Linked DNA regions of Homo sapiens: region 2 is reported to be linked to region 1. Evidence: microRNA targets listed by miRTarBase, many of them from high-throughput screens and not tested one by one. Region 1 holds a microRNA gene; the other region holds the end of a gene's coding sequence.

What was found. Region 1 holds the annotated microRNA hsa-miR-6499-3p (AGCAGUGUUUGUUUUGCCCACA, at 1,620-1,641, opposite strand). A microRNA usually pairs through its seed, bases 2 to 8, with sites in the 3' UTR of a target mRNA and lowers its output. Matches are read on the target gene's strand: a 7mer-m8 pairs with bases 2 to 8, a 7mer-A1 pairs with bases 2 to 7 and ends in A, and an 8mer does both.
Region 2: miRTarBase lists LIPH as a target of hsa-miR-6499-3p. Seed matches in the 3' UTR shown: 7mer-A1 at 1,638-1,644, 7mer-A1 at 1,459-1,465 and 7mer-A1 at 919-925.

What each region holds. Positions count from the first base shown.
Region 1 is chr5:151,520,469-151,523,588 of GRCh38, forward strand. It overlaps MIR6499 (microRNA 6499), which reads right to left and starts at 1,680; the gene lies at 1,619-1,680. FAT2 (FAT atypical cadherin 2) reads right to left here. Exons shown (of 24, transcript NM_001447.3): 19 at 808-1,618. It also overlaps a transcript of SLC36A1 not described here. RefSeq lists an enhancer at 1,516-1,685.
Region 2 is chr3:185,505,852-185,508,971 of GRCh38, forward strand. LIPH (lipase H) reads right to left here. Exons shown (of 10, transcript NM_139248.3): 10 at 411-3,026. The coding sequence ends at 2,939. Among named protein-coding and RNA genes, the nearest start is that of TMEM41A-DT, 8.3 kb to the left of the region's middle.

The sequences.
Region 1 (3,120 bases):
TGGTGCCGATTAGTTTAGGTGACATCTACACAGAGTGTGGCGTACAGCAGGCTCCCTATAGCAACTGCTACCACGGGAATGACAGTCACCGTTGATCTGGGGCTTATTGTGGGCCAGCCATGGGTTAAGTGCTTTTATAACTCTTACGTAATTTCCCCCCCGAACCCAACTCCAGGAGGCAGATGTATTTATTTTGACTATTTTATAGATGGGAAACTAAAAAGCTCAGAGGGTTTTAACAATACACCCAAAGTTACACAGCTAGTGACTGATGGAGCTAGGGTTTGAACCTGAGCTGTCTGAGTCTAAGCCTTGAGCTTATAACCACCAGACTATGGTAATAATAGTAGCAGTATTAGTAACTCACATGTATTGACCACTTTCTATATGTCAGGCACTGTTCTAAGCAAGCACTTGATACATAGTACTGATGTAATTCCTACAGCAGCCCAGCTCAAAGGCACAGAGAGGTTAATTTTCCTAAAGTCGCCTGGTTAGTAAGGGGTAGAGCTGGGATTTTAACCCATGAAGACTGAAGCCACAGCCTATGCTCTTAGCCATGATGTTAAACCACATATTGTAGTCTTACTGTTATTTTCTAAATCTCGAAAGGGAGCTGAGAATTGGGTATTATTCCATAACTAGATTTTGTGAGGCCACTAGCCGTCTTATGGTGATTGGTGGCCTTTGGGCTTATTAAAACTTCCCTGAACTCTCCCACAGAGCCTCAGTGGAATCTCCATGCTTAGAGTCAGGCGGGCTGAGCCCAGCAGTGCTGCTCGTCCCTAGGGAAGATGTAGTACTTACCATTGCAGGAGCAGCTCCTCTGCAGGTGGTGCCGCGGGGTTAGGATGCTGAGCCTGGCGGTGCTGTACGTGGGCCCAACCTTGGGGTCCAGATGCACTGTGTTATGGCAGATTTGACCCTGGCAGGTTGGCCCCTGGCAGGGCACCATGGGCATAGCTGACCGCATCTGAACCCCCACTGAATGCTCCATCTCCTTGGCTGAGTGAGTGATGATGGATGCTAGCTCCTGAAACTCGTAGAAGGTTCCAGAATGCCCCTCAAAGACCAGGAGCACATCCACACCAGCCACGGCCTCTGCAGGCTGGAGGCTGGCCAAGTGAATGTTAGCCCGTTTGATGTCCAGCTTATGGCTGAGGAACCTCTGCAGGTTCCGCCAGTGGTCACTCACCAGCTCCTCGGGGGTGAGCTGGTAGAAGCCCATCCACATGGCCTGCTGCAGAGCCTCCTGCCCCACATGCCACACGTACACATGGACCCCAGCAGTCGTGGTGAAGGTCCCATCGCTGACCGTGACGTTGAACGAGTAGTGGCCACGAGGCAGGCCCTGGGCGGCGATAATCTTGCCATCAGGCGCACCCACTGAGAAGTGCCTGCCCAGGGTCTCCTCTTCTGCCAGGCTATAGGTCAGCGTGTCCTGGGGGTCTCGGTCTGTGGCATGGATCTTACCCACCATGCCACCCTGGAACTCATCCTCTCCAACAGTGATGAAGATCTCCAGTGGGAGAGCAGAAGGTGCATAGTGGCTCTGCTCTGTGACATGGACACGGACAGACGTCAAAGACGAGAGGGGAGGGATGCCACTGTCTGACGCCTGTGGGCAAAACAAACACTGCTGTCACCCAACAGAACTGCAGTGCTCTTGCGCCCGACTGAGGCTGGGCCTCCTTGTGGAGCTACGTTTCTCTGCCCCACGCCCAACTTGAGGGCTGGCTCAGCGCATTGTTGCATTTAGAAAAAAAAAACCTAACTCCAAAAGCACTGACAGAAAAGAAAGATTTTCTGAAGGTTTTGTAGAGATTGAAGGAGGGAGTTACATCCTATACCATGCAGTAAAACAATGCAGTTTCCTCATGTGACATCTCTCTGAGCCTCTTCCTAAATCTCTCCAGCCATAGACTTGGGCTAACTTCCTCATGAAGTTTCTCATTCTGTCCCTGTCCTCAAGGGCGCCCTCAGATGTCTCAGCAATTCTGATGCACCATGCACCCTGCTCAGCCTACGAAAATTCCCCTTGGGATTCCCTTTTGCTATGCGATTGGAGTGGGAGTCGGGATTTGTCCTTCTAGTCAGTCAACGAAGTCTTCTGCTGTGGCCAGGAGAAAAGAGACAATAAATAAGTTACCAAATAACTTGGATAAAATGCTGGGAAGGAAATAAACAGAGACCTAACTTTGATCAGGTAGAAGAGAAGGAGTCTCTGTGGAGTGACATTTGAGTCCTGAGGGATGAGAAGAAGAGGCGACAGACAGAGGGAGCAGCAAGTGTAAGGTCCTGGGGTAGGAATGAAGGCGGTGTGTTCAACAGCACAGACGGGGTCACTGGTGCTGGAGCAAGTGGGCAGGGAAGCAGGCCTGACCTCACTGATGGGCTGGCACGCGCAGGGTTGCAGTTAATGTCAGAACTGTGAAAAGCCGTGAGGGTGACAGGACCTCACTTAAGTAGGGAAAAGAATGTAAATCATAAACGCATTTTCCTTTCATGTTTCACCACACATCCCTGCAACTTCCTGCCTGACTTAGAAAGGACAGGCTTGCCTTCTTCTCCTCAGTGATGTTATCACTTCCTCAGCTGTCAACGAGGGTCTCCACAATTTTCCCTGTAGTAATATCTTGTTCACCTGCACTCCAACACTTTTAATGTACAAGAAAGTTGATAAGATTACACCTACTGCTGGAAGTCATGCATAACACCGAAGAGATATTAATAGCAACAATAATAATTAACACTACTGTTAATTATAATGTATAGCTAACATTAGTTACAACAATACTACTACTACCGATTATATATAATACATAGCTAACATTAACTGAGTACAATGCTAGTCATTATCATAGATAAACTATGATAATGCTGTAAATACATTATCCTAGTTTATCCTTCTTATGAGATAGGTACTATCAAGTCACCCATCCTACAAAAAATATAACTGAGGCTCAAAGAGGTGAAGTAACTTGCCCAAGGTCATACAGCAGCAGATAAGGCCTGAGCAGAATCTGAATACCTATCTGTGTCTATAGCCTGTGTTTTTCTTTGCTGGCCTATGGTGCCTCCCAGTGCATGGAAGTGGAAGTACGGGACCAATGCAATTGA
Region 2 (3,120 bases), not on the chromosome of region 1:
GAAACATTGGAACCCAGGAGGCAGAGGTTACAGTGAGCCAGGATTGCACCACTGCACTCCAGCCTAGGTGACAGAGTGAGATTCCGTCTCAAAAAAAAGAAAAAATGTTTAAAAATACAACTAAAAAGTGCTATGAAGGAGAGGTACAGTGTGGAACCTCTCTGTATGGAAATAAGGTCCAAGAAGACTCCCTGAGGAGGTGGCAATTGAGCCACGATCCAAATGATGAGTAGGAGGTCACCAGTGAAGAGGGGAGGGAAGAGGGTAGACTGTAATTTAATTGTGCTTTGAATTTGGCACTCAGACAGATATATGGTACTGAGAAAGAGAGGGGAAGAGAAGCAAGGATAACAAGAGACAGTCAAAAGTTCCAGGGGCCCTTGGAAGAAAGATTCTGAGAACAGAGTGGCCACAGTTATAACTGCCTTTATTTCTCCTGATCACTGTTACATGAAACTTACTGAAATTCATCTCCTCTCCGGTGAACAAACTTCCTTTCTTTATCCATTCATTCACCCATCTACCCATCCTACAGTGAGCCAGGTACTGAGAGCTAGGAGACCCACGAGCCTAGAGTTTACAAAGTAGTAGAAATTCTATTTCTGGCATTTTCTTGCTATTGTTTTGACTCCCTGCTTACCAGGAAAGAGAACAAAAAAGTGACTGTGCTGATCAAAACACAGACCAATAAAACTAAGAAGAAACCAGGGCTGCCGGGTACGATGGCTCACACCTGTAATCCCAGAACTTTGAGAGGCCAAGGCCAGTGGATCACAAGGTCAGGAGTTCAAGGCCAAGATGGTGAAACCAGGTCTCTACTAAAAATACAAAAATTAGCCAGGCATGGTGGGGGCGCCTGTAATCCCAGCTACTTGGGAGGCTGAGGCAGAGAATTGCTTGAACCCGGGAGGCAGAGGTTGCAGTGAGCCAAGATCGTGCCACTGCACTCCAGCCTGGGTAACAGAAGGAGACTCCATCTAAAAAAAAAAAAAAAAAAAAAAAAAAAAAACCAGGGCCTACAGCACACTGATCTCTCTATCCACAATTGCTGAGGAAATGTGAGAAGGAGGAGGAAGGATGGTAACATGTCCAAGAGCTTGTTCCACTCAGAGTTCAGTCATCCCTCACTTAAATAAAACAGACTCTGTATTTGCTGCAAATGTAAATCTGTAAGAAGATGTGCCACACAGGAATACATTTATAGATTTCTTTAATTTATGACATAGAGAATCCATTTTTGGCCGGGTGTGGTGGCTCATGCCTGTAATCCCAGCACTTTGGGAGGCCGAGACGGGTAGTCACCTGAGGACAGGAGTTCGAGACGAGCCTGGCTAACGTGGTGAAACCCTGTCTCTAATAAAAATACAAAAATTAGCCGGGTGTGGTGGCACATGCCTGTAATCCCAGCTACTCAGGAGGCTGAGGCAGGAGAATCAATTGAACCTGGGAGGTGGAGGTTGCAGTGAGCTGAGATCGTACCATTGCACTCCAGCCTAGGCAACTCCAAAAAAAAAAAAAGAGAGAGAGAGTCAATTTCTTCATAACAAAGGCTATTTTCACAGATAGCAGTTGAAGGAGCAATCACTTGGGTGAAGAGGAGGTGACTGGGCCTGTCACCTCCTTTTCACAGACCTTCCTGCAGTGGCCACAGCCATGGGACAGATCATGCCTCCCCTCACACTGGGCATCTGGCCCCAGGGATTGTCCTCCCTTCTTTCTGGCCTTGGCCTGACAGGACCTCTTGACTGGACTCCTGCTGTCATTCTAGATTTGCAGACAGCATCTACCTCCAGGGAAGCAAAGGATTCCTCAAACTGGAGTCTTCAGATTCTCCAAAAGCAAACCGGTTCATGTTTTGAATTCACGTGTTGGCAAAATAGGTGACAGCCTTGTTCCAAAAGGCTAACATTAATTACCTCTAATAGGATCGTGGACAGTATTTTTTTTTAATTTTGTATCTACGCATTTTCTAAATTTCCTTCAATAATCATAGATTACATTGGTAATAAAGAAACATAAACATTTCTTAAGGGTTGCTTAAAATGAGCGTTGCCTGTAAAGTGATCCTTCTCCACCTTAGGTGAAAAATAAGCTCTGCTTTTCCTTCCCTTGCCTCATGCTCCATCCCCTGTCCCCATGTGAAGAGGCTGCCCCACGGCTTCCTCGTCCTTCTTTCTTCATCCACTATCTAGTCCCAGCAGCCGCCCTCTTAGCTGTCAGTCCATCCCCATCTCCTCCAGCTCCTCCATGCTCCAACAGCACTTTAGAGAAGGCAGAGGGCCAGCACGTGGCTTTCTTGCCTTCCCTGAGCAAACAGCCCGAGAGAGAAGCTGGTGTTGATAGAGAGAGGCTCTCTTATTGCAAATTAGATAAGCCCAAATGTAAAAGCATATTCACATTTATCAAACATCTCATAGATGTGGCACCTATGGGATTTCAAAAAACCCTTCATAGATTTTTGCCTCCCAAACCCACACAGCAGCCCCATGAGGTAGACGTCAGTTTCGTTCCCTTCTACGTGTGGGAACTGGAGGAATGTGGCACGGAGAATGCAGAGTTGAGTCCACGGTGAGGCCTCCAGTCCGTCCTTCCCTTGAAGATGCTTGACCCGCAGCCGCGATGGGCAGAACCACCCGCGTGACAGGCAGCAGAATTGACAGGTCGGAACAAGGGAGGCCCCAGGACACAGCAGACACAGCGCTGCGCTGCTGCGAGCCTGGCTATTTCTGACTTGCCCTAGTTAGGGGCTCCTTCCCAGGATCGTTTTATAATCACAAGGTTGTTTGATGTACAATGTGACATCCATAGGACGCTACTGAAAAAAGCCTTGGTTTTTTTCATACTTTTTCTGCCTTGCAGAAAGGTGAGGTGAAGCTTTCAAACAGCCTGTGGTTGTAGCTTTCTTTCTATTATTTATGGCCATGTGTCCTGGCAACAGTTACAACTGCAACTCTGGGCAAAGAATAGGTTGGAAGACTGTTTCAACGTTTTCCATCAGGACAAGATCATACCGACACAGCTGAGGCCTGGGAAAATAAGACAAAATATCCTTGTAAATGAATTTATAAAAATGCAATGGTCTAGTAAATAATATTATATCCTTAAGATACAAAATTATTT